2 separate regions of the Homo sapiens genome follow, and region 1 is linked to region 2. A link means that fine-mapping ties the variant in region 2 to the expression of a gene that starts in the linked region. Tissue or cell type: whole blood. Region 2 holds a variant in brackets; the other region holds the start of a gene. All regions are shown on one strand. Distances are between the middles of the regions.

Region 1 (2,904 bases), 27 kb after region 2:
AGCCAGAAATGAAATGTATAAGCCAAGTGTTTGGTGTGTAATTCACACTTGGTAAGCCCTAGCTCTGGTCTATTTCACAGAAGAGGCATCTGAGGCTCAGAGAGGGCTTCAAGACACTTGCCCAGAGTCACACGGCAAATGGGTGCAGATCCCAGTGGATTCCACACGCATTCCCACACCTGCCTCCCTCCCTGCCAGGGCCCACCTATGACCTCCATCTTATTGGTTGGTGTCGCCCAGCAGCCAGGCAGGCCCCTTCCTACAATACTCCCAACCTACCTCCCCAAGGGTGGCCACTCACCAGCAGGGCTGGCGTGTTGATGTCCACAGGCTCGATGACAGTGAACACCTTCCTTGCCCGGCGTGCTGGGACCCAGGGCCGGTGCAGGGTGGCCTTGATACAGTAGCGGACACTACCGTGTTTGCCCTCGAAGGATGTCACCAGGGTCCTAGGGTGGAGGGACGGGACTTCAGGGGACAAGATACAGAGACAAGCAGGCAGGGAGAAGGAGACACAGACACTCCGGGGGCCTCCCAGGGGGAGAGTCTTGGGGCTCAGAGGTGCCCAGATATCCAGTATTGGAGGTACCAATCTGGAAGGGGCTGCAGGCTTAGGGCAACCCTGCACCCCAGAGGACTTACGGGGGCAGCTGGAAGCTGAACAGGAACTCATGGCGCCCAGGAGGCAGCGTCGTGGTCTCCCCGGTATCTGCAGGTAGGAGAAAAAGGAGGCGACTGAGCGGTTGCGCTGGGGTCCCAGGGCTGACGGAGGTACCGCCGTCCAGGTGGTGGGAGGCACACAACTGGTGTTGGAGCAGGGGTCCTCCATCCGTACCTGGCGCCAGGAGCGTGGCGCGGTGGCTCACGACCTCCACGCGTTCACTGTAGCTCTGCGTGTAAGCCGTGCTCGAGCCCGCGCTGCGCGACTCGGTCCAGTGCACGTGGGCGCGGCCCCGCGCGCGCAGCCTCAGGGCACCCACACGCGCGGCGCTTGACAGCTCCAGCAGCACCCGGCCCGCCACGGCCTGGCCGCCGCTAAACACGGGCTCGACGCCCGCGGTCGCGCCGTCCAACTGCACCGAGAACGCTTTCACCTTGTCGAATAGCATCGCGTCCGGGGTGCGAACCCACGACAGGCGGAACCTGGCCTCGAACTCGCGAACCGGCAGCTCAAGATGCCGACGCTGCAGCCTCAGAACGCAAAATCGCCGTCAACGCGCAGGCGCGCTCACCAACCGGAGCAGAAAATCCCCGCGCCGTGCGTCGGCGCCGCTTTTATACGGCAGGGCGGGGGGGGGTGGGGTCACCGTCTCTTCCCCGCCCCGGGAAGGGACTCCACCAATAGCGCGACAAGGGGCGTGGCTCTGCCCAGGCGTGGAGCAAAATAACAAACGCCCCTGCTCACCGCCGGCTGCCCCCTTCCCTCGCGGACCCCGGGGAGAAACTGAAGCCCTTAGGCTGCCAGAGCTGGTCTCTCGCGGACCCCGGGGGTAAAGAGGAAAAAAAGAGGTGCAGAGGCAGGGCCCAGGCCTGAGGTCACCTAGCAGAGCCTTCAGCCTCTCGGCTTAATCACTCACCAGCCGCCCCTCGTTGACGTGACTCGAGGCATGTCCAGCCCGATTTGGGGCGGGGGACTCTCGCCCCAGTTGAGGGCCAGAGAGCCTATGACTGTTCCAGGCCTGTTTCCCCCGCTATGCAAAGGGAGAAGTGGAGGAGGTGGGTGGGACCGCCCTCCACACTGGTGCCTGCTGCACCCCTTTCCTGATTCAAGTCCCGCTTAGCTGGTGGCTCTGGGCAAATGACAACCTCTTGGAGCCTCAGTTTCCACCTCTGTAGAGCCGGGAGAAAGTAAAAATCAGTCCTGACCTCAGAAGGTTGTGCATGGATCATCGTGCAGCCCCAGCTGGACTCCTCCAAGAGCCTCGCTCCCGGGTCATCAACCTGCTCTTGACATACCGTCACTCGGTCGCGCCTCGGCGCATTCGCCCAGGAGCGGTACCTACGAAATGATGTTCCCTTCCCAATTTTCAGCCTCTGGCAAACCCTACCTTCCCCGCAGCCCTTGTGCCTGCTCCAGTCATCCTCAGCCCCCGTCCCGCCACAGAGCTGAATGCAGGGGACGCTCGGGCACCCCCAGGTCCACAGCTGCGGTGTGGCCACGGGACGGCGTGACCTCTCTCTGGGCTTCAGTTTCCCCAAAGAAAAGTCGCATGGAGTTTCTCCAGCGGGAGTTGCCTCTGCGTCGTCTGCGGGACGCTGGCGCCCTCTCGTGGCAGCGTAATGCGCTGCCGCTGAACCCATCCCCTGCCGTGACTGTCCGCCTCTGAGCCTGGCTCAGGAGACTTCCACCACCTCAGTGAGGTGTGTGGGTGGAGGGGGCGGTCATAAACAAACACGGTCACCCTCAGCCCGTGATGGGGATCGGAACAGGAACGACGGAGTTGGAGGCACAGTGATCAGCCTGGAAGGCTGCCTGGGAGGATGGGTCTTTGGAGTTGAAAGGAAGGTCTGGGACCTTAGGCCAGGTTTCAATGGATACTAGAGGGGAGACAGTAGGCCGTTAAGTCCGGGAGGAGAAGCGGGATTAGGTAACCCTGAAGGGACTACTGAGCCAGCGCCTCCCTCAATTCATTTCGCAGACGGACCCCAAAGGCCCAGAGATGGGTGGGGCTCTGCCCGAGGTCACACAGCACCTCCACTGGCCTCGCCCCTCCAGTGTCACTGTTTTTTCCTTAAATGTATAACAATTTAACAATTTTTAAGCTCCCTCTCCCTCTCCCTCTCCCCTTGGTCTCCCTCTCCCTCTCTTTCCACGGTCTCCCTCTCATGCCGAGCAGAAGCTGGACTGTGCTGCTGCCATCTCGGCTCACTGCAACCTCCCTGCCTGATTCTCCTGTCTCAGCC
Region 2 (2,904 bases):
GATCCTCCCACCTCGGCCTCTCAAAGTGCTGGGATTACAGGCATAAGCCATGGTGCCCAGCCAGCACATTTTTCCTTATGGGGTTAACAGTGAGTTTCAGACAGTTACATATACAGTGGGGGTGGGGGGATAAATAAAAGTGAGGGGCCTTCCTGCAACAAGCCCCCGGGGCTGAGCTCAGAGGGGCCCAGCAGCCTGAGATGCAAGGTTGGCTCTTGGTCACCTGCAGTTGGCTAAAGTCCCATTTCATGGCCAGTGCTACTAAGGCTAGAGACAAAGGACCCAGTGGGCTCAAATCTGGCCCTGGATGCTGGACCTCCATCTTCTCACCTCAAAAGCAACGATAAGGCCAGGCGCATTGGCTCGCACTTGTAATCTCAACACTTTGGGAAGCCGAGGCAGGAGGATCGCTTGAGCCCAGGAGTTTGAGACCAGCCTGGGCAACATGGCAAGATCCCATCTCTTTAAAAAAAAAGTTTTAGCCTTGCACGGTGACATGCACCTATAGTCCCAGCTACTCGAGAGGCTGAGGCAGGAGGATCACTTGCACCTGGGAAGTCCAGGTTGCAGTGAGCTGCGATCGCACCACTGCACTCCAGCCTGGGCGACAGAGCAAGATCCGGTCTAAAAAAAAATAAAAGTAAGGATAAAAGAGAAAGGTGAAGGCCAGACGCAGTGGCTCACGCCTGTCACCCCAGCACTTTGGGAGGCTGAGGCGGGCTGATCACTCGAGGCCAGGAGTTCAAGACCAGCCTGCTCAACATGGTGAAACCCTGTCTCTACTAAAAATACAAAAATTAGCCAGGTATGGTGGCACACGCCTATAATCCCAGCCACTCGGGAAGCTGAGGCAGGAGAATCATTTGAACCCAGGAAGCAGAGGTTGCAATCAGCCGAGATCGCACCACTGCACTCCAGCCTGGGCGACAGAACAAGATTCTGTCTGAAAAAAAAAAAAAAGACAGAGACAAGGTCTTGTTCTGTCACTCAGGCTGGAATGCAGTGGTGCGATCATGGCTCACTGCAGCCTTGACCTTCTGTGCTCAAGGGATTCTCCTGCCTCAGCCTCCTGAGTTTGGGACTATAGGTGTGCACCACCATACCTGGCTAAGTTTTAAATTTCTAAGATTTTTTTTGTGATGTGGGAGGCTTCATCACAGGGGGATCAGGTTTAGCAAATACACATCCAGGCACCCCGTTAACTTCAAATTTCAGAGAAACAACTGTCTTAGCTTTCTGCTTTGTGGTAACAGAATACCACAGGCTGGGTAATCTATAAACAATTGAAGTTTATTTGGCTTGTGGTTCTGGAGGCTGGGAAGTCCAAGATTGGGCCATATCCGGCGAGGGTCTCCTTGCTGTGTTATCACGTGGTGCAGGCATCATCTGGTAAGAGAAACACGCCAGAGAGCAAGGGAAGCCCCAAACAGCCCTGCCTTGCCCTGCCTTGCCCTGCCTTGCCCTGCCTTGCC[T/CT]GCCCTGCCCTTCCCTGCCCTTCCCTGCCCTTCCCTGCCTTGCCTTGCCTTTTTTTTCAGACAGAGTCTTGCTCTGTCACCCAGGAGTGCAGTGGTATGATCTTGGCTCACTGCAACCTCCGCCTCCTGGGTTCAAGCTACTCTCTTGCCTCAGCCTCCCGAGTAGCTGGGATTACAGGCACATGCCACCATGCTCAGCTAATTTTTTGTATTTTTACTAGAGACAGGGTTTCACCGTGTTAACCAGGATGGTCTCGATCTCCTGACCTCGCGATCCACCCGCCTTGGCCTTCCAAAGTGCTGGGATTACAGGCGTGAGCCATGGCACCTGGCCAGCCTTTTCTTTTAAATTTTTATTTATTTTTACATTAAAAAAATTTAAAGACAGGTTATTACTCTTGTTGCCCAGGCTGGAGTGCAGTGGTGCAATCTTGGCTCACTGCAGCCTTGACTTCCTCCTGGGCTCAAGCAATCCTCCCGCCTCAGCCTCTTGAGTAGCTGGGACCATAGGCCCACACAACCACACCCAGCTAATTTTGTTCTTTTTTGTAGAGATGGGGTCTCACTATACATAGATATACTATAAATATATACTATATATTCATGTATGTATCTATATATATGATATATATTTTCATATATTATATATATATTAGAGACATGTATTTGTCTCTAAAACAGAGACAGGGTCTTGCTCTGTCTCTCAGGCTGGGGTGCAGTGGTGCAATCATAACTCACTGCAGCCTTGAACTCCTAGGCTCAAGCGATCCTCCCGCATCAGCCTCCTGAGTAGCTGGGACTACAGGTGCATACCACCACACTGAGCTAATTTTTAAATTTTTTGTAGAGACGGAGTCTCACTATGTTGCCCAGGCTGTTCTCAAACCCCTGGGCTCAAGGATCCTCCTGCCTTGCGCTGGGGTTACTAGTGTGAGCCACTGTGTCCAGCCCAATCTCACTTTTCTTTTTTTTTTTTTGAGACGGAGTCTCGTCCTGTCACCCAGGCTGGAGTGCAGTGGCACGATCTCGGCTCATTGCAACCTCCGCCTCCCTGGCTCAGACAATTCTCCTGCCTCAGCCTCCTGAGTAACTAGGATTAAAGGCATGTGCCACCATGCCTGGGTAATTTTTTTTTTTTTTTTTTTTAGTAGAGGCGGGCTTTCACTATGTTGGCCAGGCTGGTCTTGAACTCCTGACCTCAGGTGATCTGCTTGCCTTGGCCTCCCAAAGTGCTGGGATTACAGACATGAGCCACTGTGCCCGGCCTCCAAGCTCACTTTTTTTTTTTTTTTTTTTTTTTTTTTTGAGACAGAGTCTCACTCTGTACCCCAGGCTGGAGTGCAATGGCGCGATCTTGGTTCACTACAACCTCTGCCTCCTAGGCTCAAGCAATTCTCCTGCCTCAGCTTCCCAGGTAGCTGGGATTACAGGC

What was found. PIP is the estimated chance that this variant, and not a neighbour inherited with it, causes the effect.
Region 1: it holds the start of ARRDC2, and the variant in region 2 is fine-mapped to the expression of ARRDC2 in whole blood (INTERVAL, PIP above 0.99).

The regions. Positions count from the first base shown.
Region 1 is chr19:18,006,516-18,009,419 of GRCh38, reverse strand. ARRDC2 (arrestin domain containing 2) reads right to left here and starts at 1,250. Exons shown (of 8, transcript NM_015683.2): 1 at 836-1,250; 2 at 643-709; 3 at 302-449. The coding sequence starts at 1,109. RefSeq lists an enhancer at 977-1,196.
Region 2 is chr19:18,033,697-18,036,600 of GRCh38, reverse strand. No RefSeq gene overlaps it. Among named protein-coding and RNA genes, the nearest start is that of ARRDC2, 27 kb to the right of the region's middle. The variant T/CT (reference allele first, on the strand shown) is at 1,473.